Linked DNA regions of Homo sapiens. The protein of the gene in region 1 purifies or fractionates together with the protein of each later gene. This does not show direct contact. Each region holds a gene or a part of one and is shown in the gene's direction. Other genes may lie near its edges.

Region 1 (3,500 bases):
GGTGAAACCCTATCTCTACTAAAAATACAAAAATTAGCCGGACGTGGTGGCAGTTGCCTATAATCCCAACTACTTGGGAGGCTGAGGTGGGAGAATCACTTGAACCCCGGAGGCGGAGGTTGCAGTGAGCCAAGATTATGCCACTGCACTCCAGCCTGGGCAACAGAGTGAGACTCCTCAAAAATAAATAAAAATAAAAATGAAATTCACATTCTTTTTTTTTTCTTTTCCCTGAGACAGAGTTTCGCTCTTGTCGCTCAGGCTGGAGTGCAGTGGCGCGATCTTGGCTCACTGCAACCTCAGCTTGCTGCAACTTCCGCCTCCCGGGTTTAAGCGATTCTCCTGCCTCAGCCTCCCAAGTAGCTGGGATTACAGGCACATGTCACCACGCCCAGCTAATTTTTGTATTCTTAGTAGAGACAGGGTTTCACCATGTTGGCCAGGCTGGTCTCAAACTCCTGACCTCGTGATCCGTCCACCTCGGCCTCCCAAAGTGTTCGGATTACAGGTGTGAGCCACCGCGTCCAGCCTGAAATTTACCTTTCTTTCTAGTTTTCTTTTCCTCTTTCCTGCTTCAAAGCATAGGATTTCATCAGTGATATAGTAGGACATCCTATTTAAGATAGTTTTGTTCTGAATTCATATAAGTAGCTAGTTTATTTATCTAAGATGTGAGAATTACCATATTATGCCAAAGGACCATGGTATAGTCAACAGACTATTTTGTTTCTGGCAGAAATTTTTTTGGAAGAGATGTTTGTCCCATGATGAGTCAGGAGGATATAATTGACAGAAACCTATTTCAAACCAACTTAAGCAAAATAAAAGAAAATGGATATTAATCAGTTCACATAATCTAGCAACAAGGATGCAGCTGGGCCTCAGAGATGGCTGGAATCATAGGGAATATAGATAGGTCATTTCACTACATCTCTCTCCCTCTCTACCTGTTGGCCTGGAATAACTTTTAAACATTCATCTTTGTGTTTTTCTTTTGTGTTTGAATTATTTATTTTTCTTTTTTTTTTTTTTTTGAGACGGAGTCTTACTCAGTCGCCCAGGTTGGAGTGCAGTGGCGTGATCTCGGCTCACTGCAAGCTCCACCTCCCGGGTTCATGCCATTCTCCTGCCTCAGCCTCCTGAGTAGCTGGGACTACAGGTGCCCACCACCACGCCCGGCTAATTTTTTTTATTTTTTTAGTAGGGACGGGGTTTCACTATGTTAGCCAGGATGGTCTCGATCTCCTGACCTCATGATCCGCCCATCTCGGCCTCCCACAGTGCTGGGATTACAGGCGTGAGCCACCGTGTCCGGCCTAGTGTTTGAATTATTTCTAATGTTCCTTTATCATTTTCCAATGGTGATTTTTCATGAAAAAAAAGACTAGGAACAAATATGCTATGATGTTAACAGTAGTTAATTCTAATATGAATGGTTATTGTTTCCCCTTTGGTTTTATTCTTTATTTCCAAATATCTGAAAACAAATTCACTATTGCTCTTGCTCAAATAAAGATCACAAGAAAATTAAACAGACGTCATTAATATACATCGTTGTTATTCTGCTGTGTGATAACCAAATATAACCAGTGGTAATTAAGATGTCTCTTACTAAGTGAAATAAAACTTTTCATTTTCCTTCATCTTGCTCCTACTTATCCCAAATCAATTTTTCTTAATACCATAGTAATAGCTACCCTTTGTTGGTTGGGAGCTGTGGACCAAAGTTTCTAGAAGTGAAGGTGAAAGTGAAGTAATTGAGAATGCCTACTCCATGTGGGTTCAGTGTTCTTGGGATAAGAAGGCAGGATCATCTGTCAGGTTGCTGACTGCTATTGTAAAGATGATCTGGAATGAGGAAGAGGCACTAAGAAAGCTTCTTAAATTGCATACACATATCCTTTTGAAATTTATAAATGATATTAAGGTAAATGGAGAAACCATGACTTTCTTTCGGATTGTTTCCATTTGAACATTTCAGGGTACACGTCAGAGACAGAGAAATCAAAGTTAACATCTTTGATATGGCTGGACATCCCTTCTTCTATGAGGTAAGAAAGCCTTTTTGACAAAACCTATATCCAGTATTGTTGGTGGTTTGGGGAGAGATCCAGAATTATATGAAACAACCAATATTGATATCATGTGTAAAATTGCATAATTTTAGCTTGATCGTGGCTTGCCTTCAGAGCCTTGAGTTAATAGACAACTGTTGATCTTTTAGGTTATCCTGTTAAATAGTGGTAGGAAATTTCATTGCCAATATTTCAAACATTTCAATAAGACATTTTGACTTTCAGAGGACTTTTGCTTTTTACCTCATACTTTAGCCTAAAATGTGAAAAAAAAAATAATTACATTTATGCTTGGGCTTAAGAACTCAGTGATGCGACTTCTTTCACAGCAGGGTACTGGGGTGATCGTTCCTATTCATGCCTAGTCATCTGCATTCTTTCCAGAGAAGAAGCTAAAGCAACTACTTGATTTATTTTCATCTGCTTACCAGCTCTAAGTAATCACCAAATGAATCTCATGACCATTCTCTTTTGTTTTTCCTTCCTTGGGCTTTTTCATTTTTCTTAAGGAGGTTTTTTGCTCTTTTCTGGTTTGGCCGTTTCACTTCTGCCTTAATCTTTATCATTTCCTTCTCTCTGCTTGCTTTAAGCTTATTTTGCTCTTTTTGTTTTAGATTCTTGAGGTGGGATCTTAGATTATTGATTTGAGACTTTTTCCTTTTTTAATAAATTCATTTAATGCTACATATTTCCCTCTCAGCACAACTGTGTGTCCCACAAATTCTGAGATGTTGTATTTTCATTTTCATTCAGTTCAATGTATTTCTTTAATTTCCCTTGAGACTTTCTGTTTGATGTATGAGTTATTTAGAAGTGTGTTATTCAGGCCGGGAGCAGTAGCTCACGTCTGTAATCCCAGCACTTTGGGAGGCCGAGAAGGGTGGATCACCTGAGGTCAGGAATTCGAGACCAGCCTGGCCAACATGGGGAAACCCTGTCTCTACTAAAAACACAAAAATCAGCCGGGTGTGGTGGCACATCCCTGTAATCCCAGCTTCCTGGGAGGCTGAGGTAGGAGAATCGCTTGAACAGGCGGAGGTTGCAGGGATCCAAAATCGTGCCACTTCACTCCAGCCTGGGTGAAAGAGTGAAACTCCATCTCAAAAAAGAGAGTGTGTTATTCAAAAACAAACAAACAAACAAAAAACACAAAAAAAAACAAAAGAAAAAAAGTATGTTGTTTAGTTTCCAAGTGTTAGGAGATTTTCCTGTTAATCCTTCTGTTACTGATTTCTAGTTTGATTCCATTGTGATCAGAGGCTGCCTCGGTGATGATGGCTGCTGACTGATGAGGGTGGTGGTTGATGTGGCAGTTTCTTAAAATAAGACAACAATAAAGTTTGGCACATTGATTGACTCTTCCTTTCATGAAAGATTTCTCTGTACCATGCAATGCTATTTGACAGCATTTTCACCCACATTAGA
Region 2 (3,500 bases), about 25 Mb from region 1:
TGAACCAGCTCCTGAGTCTACTGAGGGACAGACCACTGTATTTTATTTTTATTCTGTTGTATTTCATTTTAAAATAAGCTGGTTGCAACCCACTTCATTTTCGTGATTCACTCCTGGATCATTAGTAGCAACTCTTTAAACAATAATTTTTGTTGAAATTGTTTTTCTGATATCTTTGTCATCTGTACTTGGAGTACTTGGCTGGTTGGTGTCAAATCACTGAACTTGAGCCTGATAGGCTGTTCTCCAGCAGGGTCTACCCTCACTGGTTGGACAAAGGCGTCAAAGGATAGTGTTGGCCTTTGTTTTTCCTGAGGGATAGCACAGCCCCCGTGTGTCAGGTGTGTAAAGAAGGGGAGCTGGCATGTGCCCTTCCATCCAACCTAACCCTGTTTCCCCACCCCTCCCTTTTTTTAAAGGTAACATTTGTCGATCACCCATTGCAGAAGCAGTTTTCAGGAAACTTGTAACCGATCAAAACATCTCAGAGAATGTAAGTACCATTCATTATCTTAAAGAGGCCAACCTGAACTCCTCTGGGCAGGAAATTGCAAAAAAAAAAAAAAAATTCCATGTTTCTTCCCCTGCAGTGGAGGGTAGACAGCGCGGCAACTTCCGGGTATGAGATAGGGAACCCCCCTGACTACCGAGGGCAGAGCTGCATGAAGAGGCACGGCATTCCCATGAGCCACGTTGCCCGGCAGGTACCGTCCTTGGACTTGAAGTTGTGTGTTTTGTGTTTCAGTGGGTCATTGACAGCGGTGCTGTTTCTGACTGGAACGTGGGCCGGTCCCCAGACCCAAGAGCTGTGAGCTGCCTAAGAAATCATGGCATTCACACAGCCCATAAAGCAAGACAGGTAGACAAGCTCTTGTTCAATTTCTAATATATAGAGTCCAGTAACTTGAGAAGTAGCGAAAGGATTAACCAGACTTGTATATTAATGAATGTGTTTATTTAGGGTGAGCTTAACCAGCTATGGTGTGTCCATTTTGTTTCACTTCTGGTTGCACGGTGTTGAAAGACTTGCCTGACTTTGGAATTTACTTATTAAAATGCACATAAAAGCTAGGTAATTTATAATGAGAGAGCCTGACTGTGAGCTGGGGCTGAGCGGTGCTCTGTCTTCTGTTCCTTCCTGCATAATTTTTATTAAACATTTAGGCCATAGTAATCATCCTGCTGATATTGCAAGTTTGTTGCTAGAATGAGGTTATATAATATATACAAAAACATTTTTTCAACTGTAAAGTGCCTTAGTAATATAGGGTAATACCAGCAACATTATGGATATATAATTATAGTCTATTGGGCCACACTTAAGTTTGGAGTCTAATAAAGTCACAATCAAATTCTGCAATTTCAATTGAAGATAACCTTGTCTTTATATTATGAATTAGAAGCTAAAGTTGATTTTTCTAAGAGTTCTTTATTTAAATGAAGTACTCTGGGACTGACCTTTTCGGAAATGGAATCTTCATTGGTCAGGTGATTCAACATTTTTATACAATTTATCCATCCTCATCTCTTCAGGATTTGCATACCTTGCCAGTTTCTACTGGCCATTGTTGAAAATACATTTATTTGGAGAAGTCCAAAGCCAAGGGGCTCATGGGGCTGTGAAGTCCTTCTTGCTGCATCGTCCTGTGGTAGAAGGTGGAGGAGTCAAGAGAGTGCCCCAGAGTGAGTGAGAGCGAGAACTAGAAAAACGGGAAGAGGGAAACAGAGGAGAGAGAGAGAGAGGACCCATCAGTGTCAGGAGCCCACTCCCAAGATAGTGGCATTAATAAAGATCCTGCGTCTCACTATTGTTGCATTGGGGATGAAGTTTCCAACAAAGGAACTTTGGGGGACACATCCAAACCATAACATAGGATTTAAATAATTTTACAGAGTTCAAGAGTTCTGCTACTGAACCGTTTGAGATCCCTGTTCTGAGGTCTCATCACTTTCCAGTTTTAGCAGGAAGAGAAGTGGCAAGTGGCAGGAGTCTGCAGATTGGGGCCTGCACCTTTTTTTGAGGCACCTTTTTTATGAACAGTGTTTGTTGGAACACAGCCAGACTCACTCATTCACCTGTAGTTCGCGGCTGCTTTTGTGCTAGAGCAGCACAGCCAGAGCGGCCTGGTGGCCACAAAGCCCGACTGTCTCTGCAGCACTGGTTTTTTATATGGCGTTTCTAGTTGTTTTTAGTAGTAGGGGTGATTTGCCACAAGCTGTTTCATTTATAGCTGCAAGTGGAAATCCTTTATTGTGCATTTGTTACATAAGTTATAGCTGTTTCTTTCTCAATTATTGTAACATCTAAAAATTATGTAACAGTTACTAAGTCTTTTTTTATGAAAAATTTACAATTAGTCCAGAATTTAAAACAAGTTTAGTATTAAATCCTAGGGAATTTCTCACATAACTAATTTGGAGAAATAATATAATACTGTTCAGGCATGGTGGCTCACACTTATAATCCTAATAACACTTTGGGAGGCTCAACATTGCTTGAGCCTAGGAGGTCAAGACCAGCCTGAGCAACATAGTGAGACCCATCTCTACCAAAAAAATTTTAAAAATTAGCTGGGTGCTATGACATATGCCTGTAGTCCCAGCTGTTTGGGAGGCTGAGGTAGGAGGTTGGCTTGAACTCAAGAAGTTGAGGCTGCAGTGAGCTATGATCACACCACTGTACCCCAGTGTTGGTGACAGAGTGAGACCTTTTCTCTAAAAACAAAAAGAAAAAATTCAGTATTGTACTTATTCTCAATTTTGAAATAAGTCAATGTCATGGGAGTGTTGACGAAATACAGTCTTTTCTAGCTACTGGAAGTGCATACTAAAAGCCAAAGTTTCTCATTTTTTAGAAGAACAGGTATACACTTTCCACCTTTGTTCCGCAGTACGTATGTTTATGTTTCTTATTCTGCCATTATTTATAGTAGTCGAAATTCACAAAATAATCTTTTCATTTGTATTTTAAGTAGGTGTGTTTATAGATTATATCAGAAAACAATCATAAGCTTTCAGGTTACAATCAGTAGAAATACTGAGTGGCATTCTCTTCTGTGTGAGGTTTAAATTATGGATAGTCAATCAAAATAAAGGAGGACTGTCAGTTATCACTCCTGTGTTTCTTTCTTAGTGACCACCTCTGACCACCCAACTTAATACTTTTACTCCTCCCTGCCCCAAAGCTGTATGTATCTCCTCTCTGCTTTATTTCCTCCAGGGCATCTGTGCCTCCTGTGTGTTGCCTGCCCCCATGTGGAAGGGCAGCTCCATGGGACGCGGCTCTGTCCACTTAGCTTGGTGTTTGTTACTGGGGCCCAGGATGTTCAGTGCTTGTGGAATGAAAAATAGAGTAGAATAATGAAGGGGATTAAATATGTGACATTTTAGTATGTTGACTGTATTATACACTGCTACTAAGGAATTGAAGCCGATGTATAAACATTGTGTCTACACATTATACTATTTTATGATTATTGTATGGAACTTTATAATACAAA
Region 3 (3,500 bases), on another chromosome or scaffold:
ATTGTTTTAAACTGAAGAGATTTGAGATTCAACAGATGCAGAGAGAAGCCTACTTGGAGTTTATCTGGCTAAAAGCAAATACATGTCACAAACGAGGGCTGACATAAATTCTCCCTTTGGAGTGAGTCTGTTCCCAGGAGAGAGGCCAAGAGTAAACCTCTGGTAGGGGTTGGAGGGGTAGTCTTTTGGCCCTAAGAAAAGAAAGACCACTCATACCTATGTAGACAGACATTGTAAACTTGATCTCTCATTTGTTCTGAAAATACCATTTGTGTTCCCTAAAGAAATCTGTTCTTCCCAAAAGGTTTTTCTCCTGCTGTCCTTTCCTCTTCTAAGTTAGGTATATAAGCCCTAAATTCTAACTACTCAGTTATCACTGAGTGTGAGTGCACCTGTGTATGTGTGTTGCACATGTAAATACACTTTTTCTGCACCTCAAATGCCACTTTTCTGCCATTGAAACAATATCCGAGCTCAGAATACCTTTCATCAAGGTCCTGTTAAGAACTTTCAACAACCTTGAAGTTGGCTGATGGAACATTTAGACCTGCTATCCTTGGGTACAGCCCTAAGTGGGGCCCTCCAGTGGTCTCTGCTTTATGCAGTAATTCCCATTCTCCTCTGTGCTTATTCCCCAGTGACTCATCTTCTCAGTATGCTTCTGGCGTTCTGTTCTTGGGGTGGCATGTTTCTTTACATTCTCAGCCTTTCTGGAAAAGTCAAGGGACTTGCCTTTTCTGCCTAGCCCAACAACTCTCTGCCCTATTTATCCCAGTATATCTTATTGCCTCTTACTGGTAGAGGCAATTAAAGGTCTCAGGTATTCATTTCCTGAACTTCTCATTCTCACTTAACAAACTCACCTACATCTGTGTCCATCCTAGCCATCTCTCTTGAAGGAGCTGTCCCTCCTCCAACAAGAGTAGAATGATACCTCATTTTTAATATGCACTTTTACTGCTTACAGTTGAACCTTTTTTTTTTTTTTTTTTTTTTTGAGACATAATCTTGCTCTGGTGCCCAGGCTGGAGTGCGGTGGCGCAATCTTGGCTCACTGCAACCCTCCGCCTCGCGGGTTCAAGCATTCTCCTGCCTCATCCTCCCGAGTAGCTGGGACTACAGGTGCACACCACCATGCCCGGCACATTTTTTTGTATTTTTAGTAGAGATGGGGTTTCGCCAGGTTGGCCAGGCTGGTCTCAAACTCCTGACCTCAGGTGATCTGCCCGCCTCAGCCTCCCAAAGTGGTTGGGATTATAGACGTGAGCCACCGTGCCCAGCCAAACTTTTTTTTTTTTTAACTGGGTCTCTGTGGCCCAAGCTGGAGCATAGTGGCATGATAATGGCTCACTGCAACCTGGACCTCCTGGGCTCAAGTGATCCTCCTGCATCAGCCTCTCAAGTAGCTCGGACCACAGGCATGCACCACCATGCCCAGATAATTATTTATTTTTTGTAGAGACAGGGTCTCCCTATGTTGCCCAGGTGACTCTTGGACTCCTGGGCTCAGGTGGTCCTCCCACTTCTGCCTCCCAAAATACTGGGATTGTAGGCACTAGCCACTGCACCTGGCCTTGAACAGTTTTTTTTAGTGTTGGCTATTTGTGTCTTTTAGAGCTTGTCTGTCCTTCGTTAGTGTTTCTGCTGGGGTATTTATTTTTTCCTCACTTAGGGTAAAAAAAATAGAAGATATCCTCAAGAACAAGATAAATGCAAATAGCCAGAATTTCCGTAATCGAGAGGTTACAAAAAGTAACAGTCAAATAAATCAGAAAATAATTTTGTGGCAGTTAAAATGAACTACTCATTTAAAAGAGAAGTTGACATTTTAAATAAAGAACTCTTAACTAATAACACACTCAGATGTTTGTATTCTTTCACTTAGCAATGGATTCTGAAAACACAGTCCTAAATACAGAAGACATTTTAAGTAAAGATATGGCATTATTTATAGTAGGGAAAATTGAGCACAAATGTTCAACACGAAGGATTGTAAAGTGATTTATAATATATCCACACACTGTGCTTTCTTAAAAAATACTCTGTGATCAGAAAGTTGGTCCCTTTTATGTCCAGGTTTTCATCTTAGTCCCCCACAATTGTGACACAAACCTCTGTACAATATTGCTGACAAACCTGTGACCGTTTTTTTCCTCATTCCGCAGTTATGTAGGCTCTTACACAGTGATATAGTGGTAACCAGAATATACATGATCCTGTCATCATGAAGCTTAGTCTAGCGGTGACTTTTTTTTTCTTTTTCTTTTTGAGATGGAGTCTCCTTTTTCACCGAGGCTGGGGTGCAGTGGCACATTCTCAGCTCACTGCAACTTCTGCCTCCCAGGTTCAAGCAATTCTCCTGCCTCAGCCTCCCAAGTTGCTGGGATTACAGGCACACGCCACCATGCCTGGCTTATTTTTGTATTTTTAGTAGAGATGGGGTTTCACTGTGTTGGCCAGGCTGTCTTGAACTCCTGACCTTAGATGATCCGCCCGCCTTGACCTCCCAGGAGTGTTGGGATTACAGGCATGAGCCACCACGCCCAGCCAGCAAAAACATTTTTTAACCTGCATTTGAGTCCTGTGATACTTTCTGATGACGCCTTGCAGTGGTTCAAGTGGAATTTTGCAAGTTGAAAGAAATGTCTTTAAGAGGTGATTTCACTCTGTGAGCTGAGAGGCAGTGTGGCTAACTCTTAATTCTTCTTCACTTCACTTTTGGCATATTGGTGTATTTTGTATAACGTTTTTGGATTATTTTGGATAAAATTATAGAAACTCTCCCAAGCTAAATGGGAACATTTTAATTGTATTGCAGTATACTGTTTACATTGGTGGGTGATGACAGTCGACCTTTTTAAAATTTTAATGGTTCGTTGGTTTTATGTTTAGTTGCTTTTTAATACAGAATAAATACATGGTTGTAAAAAACTTAGTACAGATATAAGTAAAGTAAACAGCAAAGGTCACTGACATTTCCCATTCCCTTTACCCAGAGGTTACTTTCTGGGCATTTATAATGTTCCAAGCCCTAGTCTCTACAACTTCATGAGGTAGGTACTATTATCTCCACTTTATGGGAAACTGAGGCACAGAGAAGTTAAGTGACTCGCACAAGGTCGCACAAGTTCTGAGTGGCAGAGGTGAACCAGGATTCAACCCCCGGCATATGTCTCCAGAGCCCAGCTTTTGTCAGAGTTGACCTATTAAGTTTTCAGATGTGCCCATTTCTTATCAGAAAAGGGAAGAATGGCAGAGATACCTAAAGAAAAGTGGAAGGAAGGAAGAAGTAAGTGGATGTAAAGAGTAAAAAGGATGCCTGGCTTCTGAAGAGGAAGTAGACAGGGTAGTGAGAAGCGGTTAGGCACTTACTATGTTGTGGGCATTGCTGACTTGAAATCTGTTTCCTTCTCTGTAAATGGGGGAAGGAGAGTGGTGGTAAAAAGAATAAATGATTAAGTACTCTATAATTGATAGCAATTACTAGAGTAGCATCATTG
Region 4 (3,500 bases), on another chromosome or scaffold:
CATCTGTAGGAAACAGGCACTAATTAAGGAAAGGGCTAAACTAGGATAGATCTTGGAAGCAAAAAATAGTTGAATTTAGGATACTTTGGCAGGAGTGAAACTGTTAATCCCAAATCTTCAAATGTGAGGGTTTCCTATGCATGTGAATTTATGTGCACTTCTGATTTTAGTACAGCTTAATTAACACTGCAGCCCAGTTACTGTTTAGTTCATTGCATAGTACAGTACTGGGCTCTAGTTCTGGGTTGGATCCTGCCAGTTACATGAGCAAGGCACATAACTTTTGTGGATTCATCATTGGCACTAGTAAATTAAATGGGCTTAAGTAAGGGGATAAATTAAGTTCACTCTTTGAGAGCAGACCAGCATATCCCTGTCTGCTTCTTGCAAACTCATTAGTTCTTTGAAGTTATCTAAACAGATTTTGAAAGTTATGTTCCACCATAGTGTAGCCTTCTAAAATAAAGATTACATTTTAAATTAGTTGCCACTTTAACATTGATGCTCCCAGAAGATACATTGTGTTTATCCTGGAGTTTGATGTATTCCCTGACTCATAGCCTTGGGGCTTCTTACGCTTCAACTTGAAAAGCATAGGACCCAGAGGATCTCTTAGGTCTCTTGCAGCTCTGATATGCTATAACACTTGCAACAAAGGAGAGTTTGTTCTTTAGTTTTGATAAAGTATACCTTTAAGAAATTATAAATCCATAACAGGGAAAAATATGACTGACTGATTTGCATGATGTAACATCTTTCTCTGAGAATTAAAGATTGCAATTCTATTTTATGTAGAAGCTGTTTCATCTGAAACTCCATGTAATTTAATAAATGGATTGCAAAATTAGAAAAACCCTTTGTAGATGTCATCATTGTTGCTTTCAATCTTTCTTTGCTGCAATTCTGCTTTTTTCTTTCCTGGCTGCTAATTGGATTAAAGACTGTTTTTGCCAACCATGGCATCTGGAGATGACAGTCCTATCTTTGAAGATGATGAAAGGTAAATGTCTTATATTGCAGTAAACTAGCCTTTGACATTTTCAAGATTGTTATCATTCAAAAGAGTGATTTATCCAAGATACTCTGTTAAGAATACATTTTGTAAAATTGCAGAATACATGGTTCTGCTTTTGTGTGATTTAAAGCAGGAGTAGTAAATACCTGGCGTGGAGGTAGCCACTAGAAACATGGCATCCATTTCAGTAGAGCCTTGATGTGAGGTCTTCTCATTTCTGTCAGCACAGAGTTCTTGGCAACCACTTCAAAATGATATAAAATCCATTTACCATCTTCAGTTTAGAGCGTACAGAGGAGATTAGGGCGAACAAAGAGGAAGATGTAGTTAAGAGAACAGGCTTTGGAGCCAGAATCCTAGGTTTAAATCCTACCTCTGCCACTTAATGTCATTGTGACCTTAGGTAAACCCTTAGCCTCTCTAAGCCTCATCTGTAAAATAAGGATACTAATAGTAGCCATCTCATGGTGATTCTATGAGTTAATATATTTAAAGCTCTTAGAACAATGACTGATACATAGTTATCACTTAATAGCTGTTAGCTATGATTATTATTACTGTAATAAATGATACTTCTGTCAAAGCTAAAAAGATACACCAATATCAAAATATTAATTAGATATTATGTATTATGTCATTCACATAGGATATATTAACATCAAAAATATATGTTGAAGTATATGCCAGAAATCTCTGACAAACCAAAATCCTTTATTTATTTCTTATTTTTGAGACAGTCTCACTCTTTCACCCGGGCTGGAACGTGGTGGTGCAATCATGGCTCACTGCAGCCTCAACCTCCTGGGCTAAGATGGCTCTCTTACCTCAGCATCCCAAGTAGCTGGGACTCCAGGCATGCGCCATCACGTGTGACTAATATGTTTGTAGAGACAGGGTTTCACCATGTTGTCCAGGCTGGTCTGGAACTCCTGGGCTCAAGTAATCTGCCCACCTCAGTCTCCCAAAGTGCTAGGATTACAGGCATGAGCCCCTGCACCCAGCCCAAAGTCCTTTATTTTTTTAAAATAAGATTTCCTGTAATAATGCCAAGAATATTTTTCATAACATTTAAAAATTATTTTTATCTTTATTATAGGGCATTTCTTCCATGACTTTTTTCTGTCTTAGTATAATAAATTAGAACCTTTTTGTTAAAACAAATCCCTAGTGCGAGTTTAAGTATGGGAGGTTTGGAGAGTTCTTGTTTTAGAGTGATTAGACCTGAAAAAGAGAAATAAAATTAATTACCATGGTTTTTACATGGGAGCTGGTGGGAGAAGAATAAAGACTTTTTACTGACCTTTCCATGCACTATACTGTAGCCTAACCTAGAATACTGACCAGGATAAACTGATGCATTCTTAATCCTATTAATATTAAGGTGGCTTTTTTTTAGAAGTAATCGGACTATGTACCCATATATAGTAGTTGTATCTTAAAGGAAGAGTGAATAAGAGGGAGAAAATAGTTACATGTACTGTGAGTAGAATTTCTTAGGTACTGTCACTTTAATATTTTGACATTTTAGAGGTTTTAATCTAATATTTTCATCTTGGAAGGATTAATTGGTTATTTAATTAGTATTTTGGCCTACTATAATTGCTTTATTTTATTCCTTTAGCCCTCCTTACAGCCTAGAAAAAATGACAGATCTCGTAGCTGTTTGGGATGTTGCTTTAAGTGACGGAGTCCACAAGATCGAATTTGAACATGGGACTACATCAGGCAAACGAGTAGTATATGTAGATGGAAAGGTAGGAAGAAAATATGTTACTTTGTAAAATATGATATATAGAGAAACTTGATTTTGTTAAAGTAGCATCTTCATATGTGAATTCAGGGCTTTTTTTTCTTGTAGTCATGTTTTTGATCTGTATCATTTTGCTGTGTAAAGCAAACATAGTTATAGAATTCATGGAATATAGCGTGTAATATTTAAACTTAAAATGCTTTTATTTTCTAAAACCTTGGCATCATAAATTAATAAAATTACATCTTTTTTTTTTCTTTTTTTTGAGACGGAGTCTCGCTGTGTCACCCAGGCTGGAGTGCAGTGGCGCAGTCTCAGCTCACCACAACCTCCACCTTCTGTGTTTAAGCTATTCTCCTGCCTCAGCCTCTCAAGTAGCTGGGATTACAGGCACCTGCCATTACGCCCTGCTGATTTTTTGTATTTTTAGTAGAGACGGGGTTTCACTGTTGGCCAGGCTGGTCTCAAACTCCTGACCTCATGATCCGCCCGCCTCAGCCTCCCAAAGCGCTGGGATTACAGGCATGAGCCACCACTCCCGGCAATGAAATTATATCTAAATGGCATTGCCTTTGTTCACTTTACGTTATTTCTAAAATTAGATATCAATTTTTCTTCCATTTGTTTCATATTTTTCTGTTTTATTATGTAGGAAGAGATAAGAAAAGAGTGGATGTTCAAATTAGTGGGCAAAGAAACATTCTATGTTGGAGCTGCAAAGACAAAAGCGACCAT

What was found. The genes of interacting proteins can lie anywhere in the genome.
Region 2: the proteins of DNAJC27 (region 1) and ACP1 purify together in Homo sapiens (affinity purification with mass spectrometry, with the first as the bait; one large-scale study listed by BioGRID). This does not show direct contact.
Region 3: the proteins of DNAJC27 (region 1) and ANP32B purify together in Homo sapiens (affinity purification with mass spectrometry, with the first as the bait; one large-scale study listed by BioGRID). This does not show direct contact.
Region 4: the proteins of DNAJC27 (region 1) and FAIM purify together in Homo sapiens (affinity purification with mass spectrometry; one large-scale study listed by BioGRID and IntAct). This does not show direct contact.

What each region holds. Positions count from the first base shown.
Region 1 is NC_000002.12:24,961,956-24,965,455, reverse strand, and holds part of DNAJC27 (dnaJ homolog subfamily C member 27), read left to right. Parts: intron 1-1,981; coding exon 1,982-2,051; intron 2,052-3,500. UniProt on the Homo sapiens protein: GTPase which can activate the MEK/ERK pathway and induce cell transformation when overexpressed. May act as a nuclear scaffold for MAPK1, probably by association with MAPK1 nuclear export signal leading to enhanced ERK1/ERK2 signaling.
Region 2 is NC_000002.12:271,447-274,946, forward strand, and holds part of ACP1 (low molecular weight phosphotyrosine protein phosphatase), read left to right. Parts: intron 1-419; coding exon 420-493; intron 494-590; coding exon 591-704; coding exon of another isoform or gene 705-859; exon of another isoform or gene 860-1,035; intron 1,036-3,500. UniProt on the Homo sapiens protein: Acts on tyrosine phosphorylated proteins, low-MW aryl phosphates and natural and synthetic acyl phosphates with differences in substrate specificity between isoform 1 and isoform 2.
Region 3 is NC_000009.12:97,989,841-97,993,340, forward strand, and holds part of ANP32B (acidic leucine-rich nuclear phosphoprotein 32 family member B), read left to right. Parts: exon of another isoform or gene 1-1,854; intron 1,855-3,500. UniProt on the Homo sapiens protein: Multifunctional protein that is involved in the regulation of many processes including cell proliferation, apoptosis, cell cycle progression or transcription.
Region 4 is NC_000003.12:138,618,771-138,622,270, forward strand, and holds part of FAIM (fas apoptotic inhibitory molecule 1), read left to right. Parts: intron 1-940; coding exon of another isoform or gene 941-956; coding exon 957-1,000; intron 1,001-2,636; coding exon 2,637-2,769; intron 2,770-3,417; coding exon 3,418-3,500. UniProt on the Homo sapiens protein: Plays a role as an inducible effector molecule that mediates Fas resistance produced by surface Ig engagement in B cells.